2 separate regions of the Homo sapiens genome follow, and region 1 is linked to region 2. The links come from fine-mapping of genetic effects on gene expression. Tissue or cell type: whole blood. Region 2 holds a variant in brackets; the other region holds the start of a gene. Each region is shown on its reference strand, or each on the opposite one.

Region 1 (8,000 bases), not on the chromosome of region 2:
ATGATAATTCAAGAAAATTAGTGTAAAATTTTATTTTAAAATATGGTAATAAACACTAGAAGAATCAGCTACAGGTTTTAAAAGTGGTTGCATCTGAGAGAGAAACAGGGGTGTGGGGGAGAATAAGGGTGAAGAATAGTTATTTTTACTTTGAAAAATATTTTAAATTATAACACAAACAAGAGTTTCTAAATTTTGAAAGTGCATTGCATTAATAAAAAAATTAATTGGGATATTTGTTTTAACTTATCAGAACACATGCCATTTACATCTTTTAAATTTCCTTAATTTCTAATAAAAAAAAAATCACCTCTATGCAGTTAGTTCACTTCTCATATACACTCAACTTCAGTTTCTTCCCCACTCCAAGCATGCTGACATTCACTACCCAAAAACACTTCTCAAGGGAAATAAGTTCCTGTTTATCCATTTATAACTTTCCCCTCAAAGTTCTAGTTCAAGGCCATTTTTCTTTTTAACATGAGTTTGAGTTTACTCAAAATACTGTAGAGTCTGAGAACTAATCAGCCCACACAGGGACTTTTTAAATACAGCTTCCTAAGTAGTCTTTAATCTTCTACAAACCAATTCATTCTGCATATAGTTTACAAGTAAATCAATTTAAAATACTGTTTTCATCATCTCTCCTTTGCACAAGGACCTGATGATTCCCCTCTTCTAATGGGACAGCATTCAAACTCTTTTTTGTATCTGAAGGCTCCCAGTCTGCCCTTCTTATCTCATGTTCTTAGTCCTTAACTCCCCGAAGTGTACCTTCCACTTTTGTCAGGCAGATCTTTCTACCTCCTCTTCATAACATGCTGTTCTTACTTTTATCTCTTATAAATGCTCTGTCCCCAAAATTGAACTTCCAAGTTGAACGTCTTCACCTAACTTTTTATTTATACTAAGGTCAAGCTCAAGTTCCATGACTCTGGAAGCTGCCCCTTTGGCCTGCACTGACCCATCTCTTCTTGCTTGAATTCAGACAGCCACGAATGCTTGCTTCAAATGAATGTAGTTTCAAAACTGTGTTGGGTCACTATCATGGAGGTAGAGGTGTGGGAGTGGTCATTGTTTCATGCAATGCCAACCACAGAAAAGAAAAATAACTATTACTTGAACATTTTAAAAATTCAGATAATTAAACTTGAATTCCTTCCAAGTCAACCTTAAAAACTCACCATCAGTCAATTAAACAAAAAAATTAGAACACTGACTTTTTCCCCACTGCAAAATAGGCCCCTCTTCCACAAAACACAACACATGGCTAATACAATGAGACTACTGTGAGTGACTGCTGCCTCAAGATGAGGCACAGAACGAGACACATTCAAGAAGGGATACGAGGGATACGAGATTGCAAGGAAATAAAGGGTGTTTATATAGAAACAAACCTGGATCCACTCAAATTTATTTCTTTAAAGTCATTTTTAAACTTTGGTATTTTCACTATTTTTCCAAAAAATCACTTGCTACTCATACCTCACAAACAGTGGTTTTGCATCCCAACACTAAGGCTGACTTTAAAGACAACCAATCAGCTACTGCATATCCATTATTATATTAATGACTAAAGTTTTATCAAAATAATCATATTTGTACTTACTTGAAAGATACCTTTACTTTGGGTTTAAAATAGGGTGCATTCTGGTCTGCCAAAAAGACGATTAAGTCATTTCCTAAAGAAAACAAATATATGATATTAGAAAAATGTTTGTTGATAAGATATCTAATCAGTGGTTACAAGAAGGTTTCTGGGCACTGTTCTCAACAAGAAAACTTTTATTCTACTCCAGTTCATCTGCCCTCTCAAGCATAGTCCCACTAGTCCAATGGAGATGCCTAACATTATATCACAAGTTCAATGTTCAAAGTAGCAGAGAAATAGAAAGGATGAACATGGGAAAAAGCAGCTGATCAAGAGAAACTGAAGCCAGTGGATTCTGCGAGGAGTCAGATTGGTTGACTTAAAAGAACCATATAAAGATGCCTTATAACTATACTACATGTCAAGACTTGTCTTCCCCGAATCTAGCAATGCTGTCCCTTGTAAGGCTGTTTGGTTCATTACACAGATGCATCACACCAAGGATGCAGGGACTCCCATTGTAGATATCTGACAAAGACATAATTAAGCATGTGAGCACAAAATGCTGAATCCTCCAAGACCCTCCTCCTATGGGGCCATCCTCCAGAGGGTGACACATTCTTGGAGCTCAATTAGCACTCATTGAGACAGACTTTTGGAATTGTTTAATCAAACACAGGCCATCTTTAAAGTCAAGGCTACTCTCTGTATCCAGTTTGGACACAGCAGCAACAGGTTTGGCAGTACACTGCAAAATGAGGAGTCAAAAAGATTGGGAAAATATTCAGGGTTTGTAAGAGGTTCCTGCATCCCCGCAAGGGCTCCAAGAAGTCTGGTTCAGGATCCTGTCAGGCAAGCTCTGAGTAGCTCTTCCTTCCTTCCTTCACAGCATTGATCTTTAAGCAGCACCTGCTTCTGTAGGTACTCAAGAACCCTAAGACCCCCTAATGCCCACTGTCAGCATCAAGATTTACAAAAAAGTTAGTTTAACGATTGTCAAAGCAAAGAATTTCCAAGAACAAGTTAGCAAAGAAAGTAGACATTTGGAACACTAAGGTGATGACCAAGATGAGGAAGGAGTACACGAAAGAACAGGCAGCTCAAGAGAGAAATTTCTGTAGTTTGAGACTGCTTTCCCAAGGAGGCATTGGGTTTATCAGTGGTCCCTGCAAAATGCTTGTGTGAGCTGTTTAGTGTTTAGGCCCTTGGAAGGGTACATTCGCTTCATAGAAAGTTGTGGCCTTGACAAAGAAAGGGGTGGGCGAATTAGGTAGGTGGGGAGGCAAGAAGAAGCCCCCTATGAGAAGAGATTGTCAGGTTGCACCTTTTCATGTTCATCAACGGGGAAGGAAGACTGAAGCAAAATAGAAAGGAATGAGTGGGCCTTGGGAGCGAACGTTGAGGCAAGCTACAAAGATTCCTAGGAATCAGGAAGCACTTTGGAAAACAGGTGATTCCATGGGGAGGAGGGGGTAAGGTGACTGGGTGAGGGCCGCAGACTTCTTAGGAACAAAACTGAGGTGCTGTCAGGGCTTTTGAGGGTAGGTCAAACTGTAGGGTAGCTGGGTCAGAACCTGGGGTTGGAAAGGGTGGTGCAAAAGGACAAGCTGTTAAGAATGCTAAAGGGAAGGCCACAGGGCTGGGAGAGAAGGACCAGGAAATGCAGAAGGACCGGCCATTGGGCAATGGGTTTGGGGAACACCGGGAGAGGCACACGGACAGCGAACAGAGGGAGGGCCCGGCAAGCACTGACTTTCCCGCAGCACGAAGAGATCCGTCTGCTTGTCGGAGTTGAGGTCCCCGAAAGCCGCAAGGGTGCCCCAGGCCTCGGCCCCAAAGAGCTCGGCCGTGACGTTGTGCAGCGCCCGCGCTGGGACCGGCCCGACTCCCAGTAGTGCAAGCCCTGCGAGGAGCGGCGAGAAGAGGGCCCAGGAGCTCGGGAGCCGGCCCGCCGCCGCCATGGCAGCCCCTCAGCCCCCGCCCGCCGGCCCAACGCCGCGCTTGACGACAGCCGCAAAGCACCGCGTTACCGGCCGAGAGAGTGGCGCGCAGCCCCGGGACGCGTAAGAGCCGCTGCCGGCTCCTTTTTCTCTCTCCCACTAGGGCTGCCCTTCCGACGCTAAAAAAGCAGTGGAGCTAGGGTGAAAGCCGCCCTCACGCTCACTTCCGGCAGGCGCGCCTCCCGACAGTGTCGTGCGGGGGGCGTGGCCCGGCATTGCTGACAGGCGGCCCCGGGGGCGGTGGCCAAGGCGGCGACCGGAGCGCGATGGCGGGGGCGGCGGGACTCACGGCAGAAGTGAGCTGGAAGGTCTTGGAGCGAAGAGCTCGGACCAAGCGCTCAGGTTTGGCTGGCTGGGGCGCCGCCCCCCACCCGAGTACCTTGGGTGGTGCTTCGCCTCAAGCGCCTTGGCGGGAGGCAGGTGGGGGCCCTGGGAATGAACCTGTGCCCCGAGTTCCTCCTTAGAAAGCAGGTGGCGGCCCTGGCCTTGTTTCTAATATCTTCCTCCACCTCTAAAAATTAGGTGGCAGAGCCAGCTCCACTCTGCGTGTGCCCCCGACTCTATTCCGCTTGTGAGCCCCACTCGGAAAGTAGGCAGCGGTCCGGACTTCCCTTAGAGTCTTCTAACTTAAAAATCGGGCGGCGGCACATTCCTGGGAAAGGGAATGTGTCTTCCCTGTGAATGTGTCTTTCCTGTGAATGTTCTCTGCAAAAGTCAGATAGCTTAATCAGACCAAGTCAGATGTAACTACGATCTGGCTGCAGAAAGCCGGCGTCTGGGCTCCTTGCTTTATGTCTTATATCCCTTTTACATTCCCCACAGGTTCTAAGCAGTAGACCTGTCATCTATCTAGCAGAAACTGAAGGAGACTGGGCCTCAGATATTGAAGAGTATAGTTAGGGCCCAGAAAGAAAAGGGCTTCTTAAGTGGCCCCAGGTTGTGTGGTTTCCAAACCCGAAAGCATAGAGGTCAGAAGGTGCCTTGCAGGCAGTTTTAACAGTTCCAAGTGTCCCGAACTGACTTGTTCAAATTGCAACGTCATGACTTGTGGCGTTATTAAAACTTCCTGTATTCCTGGTTGGCTGGATATAATCTTGAACAAAAGGCATGCACTTAAACAGGAAAGGTGAAAGGCGGAATGCAGGTTTTCAGCTAAGGAGCTTCCCTTTTAAAGAATTGATGAAGTGTCATTATTGGGGGTGGGTGTGAAAGGTGTTAGCTAGGAAAATTAACTTTGCACTTGCATTGATATTAAGAAATTATTTTCGGACGGGCGCGGTGGCTCACGCCTGTAATCCCAGCACTTTGGGAGGCCGAGGCGGGCGGATCACCTGAGGTCAGGAGTTCGAGACCAGCCTGGCCAACCTGGTAAAACCCCATCTCTACTAAAAATACAAAAATTACCTGGGCGTGGTGGCGGGCGCCTGTAACCCCAGCTACTCGGGAGTCTGAGGCAGAAGAATTGCTTGAACCTGGGAGGCGGAGGCTGCAGTGAGTGGAGGTCGCACCACTGCACTCCAGCGTGGGCGACAGAGTGAGACTCCGTCTCAAAAAAAAAAAAAATTATTTTCTCACCTAATATGTTCTCCTTACGTTTTGGGCTTTTCCTATTTATGAAGTTCTTAGTTGTCTGTTGTGCACACTGACTTTTTTTTTTTTTTTTTTGGAGAAAGTAAATCTAATTTCTGAAAATCTAATTTCAGAAATCATACACCGAACACTCTGTTTTTTTATACCTTACAAAAAGTTCAGCTTTATATACTTAGGGTTATAGTAAAATTACCATCTATGAAGTATGAGATAATTTTTTCAAAAAGTAGTCCTTAGTACTACTAAGAATCAATAAAGTGACTTGGAATAGTCACATGTATTTGTTTCACACTTTTTCTTAAATTGTTTTTGTGTGATATAGAAATACTGAGTTGGCTACTAACGATGTGGCTATCTGGATATAAAAAGTGTTATTGGATTGGTTATGTCTGAACAAAGAGAATAACTGGAGTTTTCTTACAGGGACCTGAGTACTGCCCCCAACATATATTTTTGCAACATTTCTCTTTAACTTTCATAAGCTCATAGAGTTGATTTTCTTCGTCAGTCTTTGTTTCCTCTGAAATGCATGTCATAACAGTAAGCTTTGAAAACCTTAATTCTCTTTTCTTAGCTGAGAAAAAAAATTCTAGTGTTAACTGTTGTTGAGTGCAGTTATTTAAATCCACTTTTATGTGCAAAGTGCATAGTATCAATGTTGAATGTTCCTGTATGTTTACATCATAGTAGTAAAGAGATACCACTTGAAGTTATTCCTCCAAATTAATAGTTAAATTTGAGGTTTCAGATTCTTGTAAGTATATGAAGTACAGAGGATAAAGTTAATAACTCGAGTTAATAACTTCCTGTATCATTAAAAGCAATCAACTTGATTCTGTTTGTTACTTTTAGAAGAATATATAAATGGAGCTTTGTTAAACACTTGACTAACCTGACTCCAGTATAGAGTCCTCCCCACAGAGTTCTGAGCATTGTTACATAGTAGCATAATTACTTCACTGCACAACAGAGGATACTACTTTTATGTAATGTCTAATAAGTGGATATTATATAGTTTCTATCTCATCCATATGAGCAAGTGTAATTTATCAAAGCAAAGAAAATCACATTTTCAAGTCATAAAAGAGAAAATAAAATTATAATGATCCTCAGTTACTGCCTTTGTTGCATACTGCATCATGTTAATAACTGCTCACACTGCTTTCAATTAATTTAACACTGATTGCTTCTAACCTTTACTAAACAGTTTTAAAATTGCTATAGCTTAGCCTGCGACGCTTATGATTAGAGCCAACAATTTGAAATGGCCTGCTCACCTGATGCAGTCGTCTCTCCGTCTTCCGCTTTCTTAAGGTCTGGTAAGTGTTGTAGACCCCAAAAGGGTCACTTGGTAATTTTAAATACCTTTGTTTCTGAAGGTTGATTTCACTATAAGATATCATTATGTCTTTATTTCTTCTTTGGTGGGCCCAGGCCTGAGTACCCGGCTGGTGTTTTGTTTAACTTTGCATTGTGTTTTGAATGTGGCCTATTGTGTTCTTCTCATGTGGGATGTGAAAAGAACAGAGAGTGGAGTGCCTGCCCCGATATTTGCAAGCAGAGGCAGTTCCTTAGTGTCTGGGAGCTCCCATTGTCAAATGTGCACATAGCATATTTCTTAAATGATTTTTGTCTTCTTGCCACAATGGAAGTAACTTCTACAAATTAGGAAATTTTGGTCAACATCCCACTTATCTGTTCTTCATCAGCTTACTGTGAAGCAGGTTATTAATATACACGTTTTCACAGACAGGAAGCGACTTGCCCCAGGGAATATTTTGAGGCCATGTGCTTTGGCCTTTATCCTGTGGCATCCTGGTGTAAGGGCTGGAACAGATGTTGGCACAATGGCTCTTAGACCGTTGTGTTGATGCACCCCTTTGAGAGCTGGATGAAAGCTATGGAATTGCTCTTCAGACGTGTGCACAGGATTTTGGAAACAATTTCTGGGTGATTCATGGACCCAGACATGATTACCTATGCATTCCCATTAGCAACCAGGCCTTTGGATGTATTCAGTGTCACTTTACAGAACAAGCCACACATTTAGTTAGGTGGCCACATAGCTGAAATGAAAACTGAAGCATTTACAGCCCTTTTCTGTAGTTGTGGCCTAACTTGGGCCATTTAAAACCTATTATGTACTAGAAAACTCGGAGAAGCCTGCTGGTAAGAGATTACCTTTTCTATAATGCCTCTTAAGCAGAATATTTCAAGCCTCAGGACTCATGAACAGGCAAATGTGAGATGAGCACCCCCAAACACAGTGAAAACTCCTTGGCTTCACCATAGCCTTTCAGAAGTGTTTCTCCCTCTTCATTCATTTTCGTTTATATTTCAAGTCCTGTTCTGGCAAGATAGAGGAGGAAAATCTTAAAGAAAATAAATAAGAAATAACTTAAGGAAGAATCAAACAGGAGAAAACAAAAACTCTTTAAGGAACTAAAATGATTTCTATTTCTAGGTGTCATCTGCTAAATGACAAAATATTACATGTAACAATGCCAATTGATTTCTGATTTTATCTTTGAACTAAAAGAACAGGAGGACATATATCTCTAGACTCTGTTTTCTTTCCTTATAAGCACCAAGCTCTGTTTTCCATCTTGGCTTTTCTACTAAGAAGGAAAGTGGTTTTAAGCACTAGCACAGTCATTCAGTAGTAATGGGGAAATAGAATGTTTAAAGATAGCTTTTATGCATCAACAGTCCTGAAAATTTCTAAACCCAAGAACTGTGCTTTAACATTACATAGAGTGTTTGAAGGTATATACAAGACGCTTTTCCTGTACTGTATCATCAAATTGAAATAGAATGCA
Region 2 (9,169 bases):
AGGTCAGTGTAGCCCATATTTCCATTGCAGCAACAGTAATTGCTCGCGTGCCATCATTTTTCCTAAGAGTTATAGAATACTTTAGAGAACATGACTGTGTTGAAAGTTATTTTATCAGATAATTACAGTCAGAACTAGCTCCCTTAACTCATTTCTCCTGTAGTCAATTTAAGAACTCTGTCACTGGCCGGGTGTGGTGGCTCATGCCTGTAATCCCAGCACTTTGGGAGGCTGAGGAGGATGGATCACGAGGTCAGGAGATCGAGACCATTCTGGCTAACACAGTGAAACCCCATCTCTACTAAAAATACAAAAAAAAAAAAAAATTAGCCAGGCATGGTGGCAGGCAACTGTAGTCCCAGCTACTTGGGAGGCAGAGGCAGGAGAATGGCATGAACCTGAGAGGCAGAGCTTGCAGTGAGCTGAGATGGCACCACTGCACTCCAGCCTGGGTGACAGAGCAAGACTCTGTCTCAAAAAAAAGAACTCTGTCACTTGATAAATATGTGTTTTCAGGAACTCTTAACATTCAGGGATGTGGCCATAGAATTCTCCCCAGAAGAGTGGAAATGTCTGGATCCTGCCCAGCAGAATGTATATAGAGATGTGATGTTGGAGAACTATAGAAACCTGGTCTCCCTGGGTGAGGATAACTTTCATGTGTAATTCCTAATATTCCCTCAGAGTTTTATTTTTTTTCCTTTGTAGAATGTTTCTTGGGAGCTTCTGCTTTGCGTGAATTAATTTCACCTTGTTTCTTCATGAAAAAATTGGGAGTCTGCTGGTGTAAAAAAAATCTTTAAGATGTTTCATCTTTACCTAAACCTTCTCTTTTATTGAGGGAATTTTTGTCCTTCACTCTAGATTAGTGGTAATTTTATAAATTCAGTGTTGTAAAATATCGTTTTCCACATCTTAAAATCCAATTTGTACCAATTTACCAATTTTTTTTATTCAGTAGTACTGGGTAGTGGAACTTAGAACCCACAGATTTGAAACACTTAAATATTCTAAAGAGCCTATCAGGAAACAATTTTTGGATTAATTTTTTAGAATCTTCCATAATTTCTCTTTTCTTCTTAGCATAGTACTAGGTTGGTAATTGGAGAATCTTCAGCAGTAGTCACGTTATTTTATCTTATTTTTTAAATAAAACAGGTGTTGCTCTCTTTAACTCAGACCTGATCACCTGTTTGGAGCAAAGAAAAGAGCCCTTTAATGGGAAGACACATGAGACAGTAGCCAAAGCCCCAGGTAGGTGAGAGTGAATGAAGGAGAGGACACAGGCAAGGGGACCAAAGGTGATGAAGGAAGTCAGGCCTTAAAATGTACTTTGGAAAGCACTTCTTCAATGCAAATAATTTCTGAAAAGGCTGCATTTTTTCTCATGTTCACAAATAGGGGCATCTTCAGCCCCATGCTGTTAAATCTTCTAAAAATTCTCTTTTTTCTTTTTTTTGAGATGGAGTCTTGCTCTGTCACCCAGACTGGAGTACAGTGGTGTGATCTCAGCTCACTGCAGCCTGTGCCTCCCAGGTTCCAGCAATTCTCCTGCCTCAGCCTCCTGGGTGACTGGGATTACAGGCATCTGCCAATACACCTAGCTAATTTTTGTATTTTTAGTAGAGACAGGGTTTTGCCATGTTGGCCAGGCTGGTCTCAAACTCCTGACTTTAGGTGATCCACCTGCCTCGGCCTCCCAAAATGCAGGGATTACAGGCATGAGCCACTACACCCAGCCCTCTTTTTTCTTTAGAGATCTCCCTTCAAGTTTACAGGGATAGCCAATGTCTACTTTATCACTTATAAGGGGCTGCATGATCTCACTGCTGTTCCATTGCTTTTGGAAATATAGGAATAATTGTGTTATTGAGGAGCTCTATGTTAACGTATTTTTTTCAAATATTGATTTTGTATCATGCCTAAATATGTAAGGCAAGTAGTGGACATATTGGAATTTGGTTCAGAAATCCCAGGAACACTAGGGACAGATGTTGCACCTTTTCTGCTTAGTGATTTTTAATCCTGTTGCAAATGTAATTCTACAAAAATTCTTTCTTAGCAATTTTATAAGAATGATAAGCATTTTCCTAAATATGAAAAATGTATTGTTGATTGTACTTCAAAATGTTATTGATTTAGTATAAACTGAGATTTGTAATTTAAACTCTAGATGTGTAAATTTTCAAATTATAATATAGTTTAAAGCATGGTTTTCCAACCTTTTGGCTTCCCTGGGCCACATTGGAAGCAGAATTATCTTGGGCCACACATAAAATACACTAACACTAATGATAACTGATGAACTTTAAAAAAAATTTCATAAATAATTTTTATGATAGCTACTGCAACAGATAAGTGAAATGTTCTTACATTCATAGCATTGGGCACCACTTGATTAAAGTATCTACTCACCTTCAAGATTTCTTAAATGCACTGTCATTAACTAGCTTAGAACACTGCTAAGTGTATATTATTATTTCTTAATAACTATTATCTTATACTTTTAGTAAGAAGCCTACTGGGGGCCAGGCGCAGTCGCTCACGCCTGTAATCCCAGCACTTTGGGAGGCTGAAGTGGGTGGATCACCTGAGGTCAGGAGTTCAAGACCAGCCTGGCCAACATGGCAAAACCCCATCTCTACTAAAATTGCAAAAATTAGCTGGGCGTGGTGGCAGGCACCTGTAATCCCAGCTACTCGGGAGGCTGAGGTGGGAGAATCGCTGAACCCGGGAGGCCGAGGTTGCAGTGAGCCGAGATGGCGCCATTGCACTCCAGCCTGGGCAACAGAGTGAGACTCCGTCTCAAAAAAAAAAAAAAAAAAAAAAAAAGAAGCCTACTGGGGTTTCATCATTGAGATCTATTGATATCTATATAAAAATGTGGGTCTCACACATACACCCACCCATATAAGTTATATATGTGTATTGTAAATTCTCACTTAACATTGTTGATAGTTTCATGGAAACTGTAAGTGAAGCAATATATTGTTTAAGAAAACTAATTTTGGCTCAGCACGGTGGCTCACACCTGTAATCCCAGAACTTTGGGAGACCGAGGTGGGTGGATCATGAGGTTAGGAGTTTGAGACCAGCGTGGCCAACATGGTGAAACCCCATCTGTACTAAAGATACAAAAAATTAGCCGGGTGTGGTGGCATGCACCTGTAATCCCAGCTACTCAGGAGGCTGAGGCAGGAGAATCGCTTAAACCCAGAGGCAGAATTACTATAGTTGAATTGATAGAAACAAGGTTATGTTTGAATGTCATATACCGACATTGTTTTATTTAAAGACGCAGTTTTCAAGAACCTATTTTGAACATTGAGTACTTACTGTACATCTGTGTTTGTGTGACATGGATTTTTCTGATAAATAAAAATGGTATAACTATATATTTAATGTATACAATGTAATGATTTGATACGCATGTACACTGTGAAACAAAATACAGTCAAGTTGATGAGCACATCTAGTACCTCAATTTTTTTTGGAGTAAGAACACTTAAGATCTACTGTAGTAGCAAATTGTAAGCATACATTACAGTATTACTAACTATAAACACAATGCTATTTGGCTAATCTAATGCTAATTTACATTAGATTTCTCAGACTTACTCAACTTATAACTAAAAATTTGTACTCTTTGAACATCTCCTCATATTTCTACCCTCAGGCACTAGCAACCACCATTTTATACTCTGCTTCTATGAGTGTACTTTTTTAGATTTCTCATCTAACTTAAAACAAGGAGTTTCTTTGTCTTTCTGTGTTTGGCTTATTTCATTTAGCATAACGTCCTCCAGGTCTATCCATGTTGTAAATGGCTACATTTCCTTCTCTTCTGGCGGAATAGTATTCTACTGTCTGTATATAGACACACACATACTATATTTTGGCTATTGTAAACAATACTACAGTGAACATAGGGCTGAAGATCTTTCTTCAAGGTACAAATTTTATTTCCTTTGGTAGGATGCCCAGAAGTGGTATTGCTGGGTTGTATGATATTTCCATTTTTATTTTTTACTGTTTTTTATGACGACTTTATTTATTTACATCTCACCAACAGCATACCGATTTCCCTTATATGTATGGTTTGTCTATTTTTGAATGGGTTATTATTATTGTTTTGCTTTGAATTGCAGAAGTGTCTTATACATTTTGGATATGAACTTCTTATTAGATATATGGCTTGCAAATAATTTCCTATGTTGTAGGGTTTAAAAAATTTTTTTTCTTTGCTGTGTGTAAGCTGTTCAATTTGATGCAGTCCCATTTGTTTGTATTTTTTGTTGCTGTGCTTTTGATGTCATATCAAAAAAGCTATTGCCAAGACCAATATTAACAAGGTTTTTTTTTTTATATATGTTTTCTTGAGGAGTTTTAAGGTTTTATGTCTTACATTTAAGTGTTTCATTTTGAGTTAATTTCGGGGTATGGTATAAGAAAATATTCTACTTTTATTCTTTCACTTGTGGATACCCAGTTTTTCTGGTACCATGTATCAACAAGACTGTATTTTCTGCATTGTATATTCTTGGTGGCCTTTTCAAAGATTAGTTTACCTTGTATTCTGGTTTTGTTTCTGGGCTCCCTATTCTGTTCCATTGGCTTTTGTAT[C/G]TGTTTTTATGCACATACAATACTCTTGATTACTATAACCTTTAAATAAAATTTGAAATTAAAGAGTATGATGCCCCAGCATTGTTCTTTCTCAAGATTGCTCAGGTTATTTAAAGTTCTTTAAGCTTACACTTAAATTTTACAATTGTGTTTTCTATTACTGTGAAAAATGCCCCTAAAACTTTGATAGGGATCACATCGAATCTAGAGATCATTTTGGATAATATGATACTTTGACAGTGTTAGTTATCCTAATGGAATATATTTCCTTTATTTGTGTCTACTTCAATTTGTCATCAATCTTATTGTATTTAATGTATAATTTTTTTACTTCATTGGTTAAATTTATTTTAATTAAATTTCTTATTTTTATACTATTGCAAATAGAAATTGTTTCTTTTTTTGGAAAGTTTGTTGCTACTGTATGGAAATGCAACAAATATTTGTATGTTGGGCCAGGTGCAGTGTCTCATTTCTGTAATCCCTACACTTTCAGAGTCCAAGGCAGGTGGATGACTTGAGGACAGGAGTTTGAGATGAGTCTGGGCAACACAGTGAGACCATGTCTCAAAAAAAAAAAAAAAAACCCACAAGTATTTGTATGTTGATTATGTATCCTGATACTTTAATGAATGCATTTATTAGTTCAAACAATTTTTCTTGTTTTACTCTAGGGTTTTATATATATATGCATGATCATATTATCTACAAACAGTAACATTTTTACTTCTTTTCCAAGCTGTAGAGCTTTGTTGCCCTTTTCCTCGCCCAATTGTTCTGAAAGAAACTTCCAGTAACATGTTAAGATAGAAGCTGTGGCCCTGCAGACAGGCCTGCATATCTTGGCCTCAGCTGTAGTCTCTGAAGCAGCCCTGTGTCTGTACATTTGAAGGATCTAACAATGATTACAGTTTCTATAAACTATTTTTGACAGGTAAAGATCTCCCATTTGTTTGGTCCACAGGCTGATGAGATTACCTCTGGGGTTGCAGAGAAGAAGGATTGTAGCTGGGTCACAAGGGTGCTGCTGGGTCTGCTGTGGGGTCTGCCTTTGATCGTTGTGTTACCAGATATTTGGACAGTCATGGATTCTTTCTGGGCCATGGAAACATTAAATATCCTTGAGGACATTATATGGCAGGCAGCAGGGTAGGGTTTGAAGTTTGTCTGCATATGATGGGCCAAATATCAGGTGTATGAATGGGTTTGGCTTCTACTGACTACCTGGGAACAGTTTTCACAAGTCTCTATGTGGGTCCCTGAGTGTGTACAACTGGCCACAGACAGTGACTGTGAGGGCTAGAACTGAGTCACAGGGCTGCTTCAGGGAGCACAGCTGAGGCCAAGATATACAAGCCTGCCTCCAGGGTTATGGCTGGGTGTGTCTCCCTGCAGGTCTCTTAATGAGAAGGACCACTTGTGGACTGTAGCTGAGAGGAGTTTGAGAAAGGTTGCAGAACTGCTTCATAATCTTCAGTAACACCAGGCTCAATGTGCCATTTCCTTGTCTGTAGCCATGTCTGTGGGCCCTTGAGTTAGCCACCTGGGTGAGGGCCTGCTTTTTCTAAATAACCCTCCTTGATCTCTGGCTCCACTGAGGTTTCACAACCCTAACCATAGGCAAGCATGTTTCTACTTCTGTTTCCTAGTTTACTACTCAAAATATTGTATAAAAGTGGAATCATACACTGTCACTTTGTCGGTGTCTTATTTCACTTTAAATAATGGCTTTAAGATTTATTCTTATTGTAGCATCTCACAAGATATTTTCATTGAGGGCTAAAGAATATTTCATTGTATGTATAAACCACATCTTTTTAAATCATTCATCCATTGAAGAATGTTTGAGTTTTTTCAGTTTTTGGCTTTTGTAAATGATATGGTTTGGATCTGCATTTTCATTCAAATCTCATGTCAAATTGCCATCCCTAATGTTGGAAGTGGGGCCTGGTGGGAGGTGGTTGGGTCATAGGGTTGGCTTCTCACGAATGGTTTAGCTTAGCCCCTTTGGTACTGTCTTTGACATAGTGAGTGAGTTCTGAGATCTCATTTTTCAAAAGTATGTGGCACCTCTTCTCTCAATCTCTCTAACTCCTGCTCCCACCATGTAAGATGACTCACCGTCCCTTTGCTTTCTGCTATGATTGGAAGCTTTTTGAGGTCTCCCAAGAAGCAGAAGCTGCTGCACTTTCTGTACAGGCTGCAGAACCATGACCCAGTGAAACTTCCTTTTTAAAATAAATTACCCAGGCTCAGGCATTTCTTTATAGCAATGCAGGAATAAACTAATACAGTGAATATTGCTGCAGTAAACATGGATATGCAAATATTTCTTTCAGGTATACTTTGCATATTTTGAATAGATGCTCAGAAGTGGGGCTGGGCACCATGGCTCACCCCTGTAATCCCAGCACTTTGGGAGGCCAAGGCAGGTGGATCACTTAATGTCAGGAGTTCAAGACCAGCCTGGCCAACATGGTGAAACCCTGTCTCTACTAAAAATACAAAAATTAGCCAGGTGTGGTGGTGTGCACCTGTAATCCCAGCTACTTGGGAGGCTGAGCCACAAGAATCACTTGAACCCAGGAGGCGAAGGTTGCAGTGAGCTGAGATCATGCCACTGCACTCCAGCCTGGGCAACAGTGCAAGTCTCTGTCTCAAAAAAAAAAAAAAAAGGAGTGGGATTACTGGGTCATATAATAATTTCATTTTTAATTTCTGGAGGAACCTTTATACATTTTTCAGATGGTTGTATCATGTTTATTTCCACCAACAGTACACAAGGGTTTCAATTCCTCCATGACAAATGACAACATTTGTCATTGTTTGCTTGATATTGGCCATACTAATTAATGCACAATAATACCTCATTGTGGTTTTGCTTTACATTTTGCTAAAGATTGGAAATATTTTTCAATAATTGTTTGCTGTGTGCATTTCCTCTTTGGAGAACCATTTTTATCTTGTTCATTTGTTAATGATGTTACTTACTATTTGTTGATTTTCTTGAAGTTGTTTATTCTGGATGTTAGCTTCTGTCAAATATATGCTTTTTAATTTGTTTTCTTAGGTGGGACTCTTACGAAATGTTTATTTTAATATGCAAAGATAAATTTAATGTAGTCCCATTTTTCTGAGTTTTTTAATTTGTTGCTCAGATATTTGATGTTGTATGCAAGGAAACATTGCTGAGACCAAGGTCATAATCTTACTGTATTTTCTTCTAGAGATTGTATAGGTATATTTCCGACATTCAAATATTTAACTCATTCAAGACAGCTTTTGTATATGGTTTGCGGGTAGGACCCAACCTCAGTTTTTCCCATGTAGTTACAGAGTTTTCCAACACCATTTATTGAAGAGACTGTCTTTTTCTTGTTGTGCGGTCACAGCAACCTTGTTGAAGATCATTTGAGCATATACACAAACATGGTTTGGCTTTAAGTTCTGGGTTCTGTTCCATCACTATTTGTCTTCTTTCAAGTACCACACTGTTTTTATTTATGTAGCTTTGTAATCTGTTCTAAACAAAGGAAGCGTTGTGCCTCTAACTTTGTTCTTGTTTTCTAAGAATGTTCAGGCTAACAGTGGTCCTTTGATGTTCCATGTAAATGTAAGAATTTTAAAAAAGATTTCTTTAAAAAGTATCATTTGGATTTTCATCAGGATTACATTGAATTTGAATATCACTGTGGGTAGTATTGTCATTTAAAAATATTAAATCTTCTGACAAAGAAGAGTATGTTCAAGAGTCTGTTAAGTTTCACATATTTTTGGATTTGGCAATTTTGCTTCTGCTTTTGATTTCTAGTTTGATTCCATGTGGTATGAAAGGATGCATTGTGTAATTCAATCTTTAATGCGTACCAGGCTTAATAATTTGATGACAAAATAATGTGTACAACAAACCTTCATGACACAAGTTTACCTATATAACAAACCTGCACATGTATCTAGGTCTTAAAGTTTTAAAACGTAAGAGTTATTTTGTGTTCTAACAGGTTGTCTGTGAAACAACAACTACTCATTTTCTTCTCCACTTAGCCCTGACACAGTTTAGTCTACTTTCTGTTTCTAGCAGTTTAACTACTTTAGGTACCTTACATAAGTGGAATTATATAGTATTTATCTTTTTGTGCCTAGCTTCTTGCACATAAATAAAGTCTCAAAAATGCATCCTTAGGCCGGGCACGGTGGCTCATGCCTGTAATCCCAGCACTTTAGGAGGCCTGGGTGGGCAGATCACCTGAGGTCAAGAGTTTGAGACCAGCCTGGCCAACGTGGTGAAACCCTGTCTCTACTTAAAATACAAAAATTAGCCGGGTGTGGTTGCAGGCACCTGTAATCCCAGCTACTTGGGAGGCTGAGGCAGGAGAATTACTTGAACCTGGGAGGCAGAGCTTGCAGTGAGCCGAGATCATGCCACTGCACTCCAGCCTGGGTAACAGAGCGAGACTCTGTCTCAAAAAAAAAAACAAAAAAGAAAACTTGGTTCTTCCCACATATTTGCTTTTGTAGATGATGCTACAATGAATATGGATGATGG

Evidence for each region. PIP is the estimated chance that this variant, and not a neighbour inherited with it, causes the effect.
Region 1: it holds the start of ITFG1, and the variant in region 2 is the best candidate, but not a certain one, in a credible set for the expression of ITFG1 in whole blood (TOPMed, PIP 0.56).

The regions. Positions count from the first base shown.
Region 1 is chr16:47,457,494-47,465,493 of GRCh38, forward strand. ITFG1 (integrin alpha FG-GAP repeat containing 1) reads right to left here and starts at 3,570. Exons shown (of 18, transcript NM_030790.5): 1 at 3,345-3,570; 2 at 1,610-1,682. The coding sequence starts at 3,552. It overlaps PHKB (phosphorylase kinase regulatory subunit beta), which reads left to right and starts at 3,838. Exons shown (of 31, transcript NM_000293.3): 1 at 3,838-3,933. The coding sequence starts at 3,858. RefSeq lists a silencer at 3,479-3,948.
Region 2 is chr4:218,136-227,304 of GRCh38, forward strand. LOC124900642 (zinc finger protein 141-like) reads left to right here and starts at 421. Exons shown (of 2, transcript XM_047416470.1): 1 at 421-643; 2 at 1,159-1,508. The coding sequence starts at 505. The coding sequence ends at 1,262. It also overlaps the pseudogene ZNF876P. The variant C/G (reference allele first, on the strand shown) is at 4,624.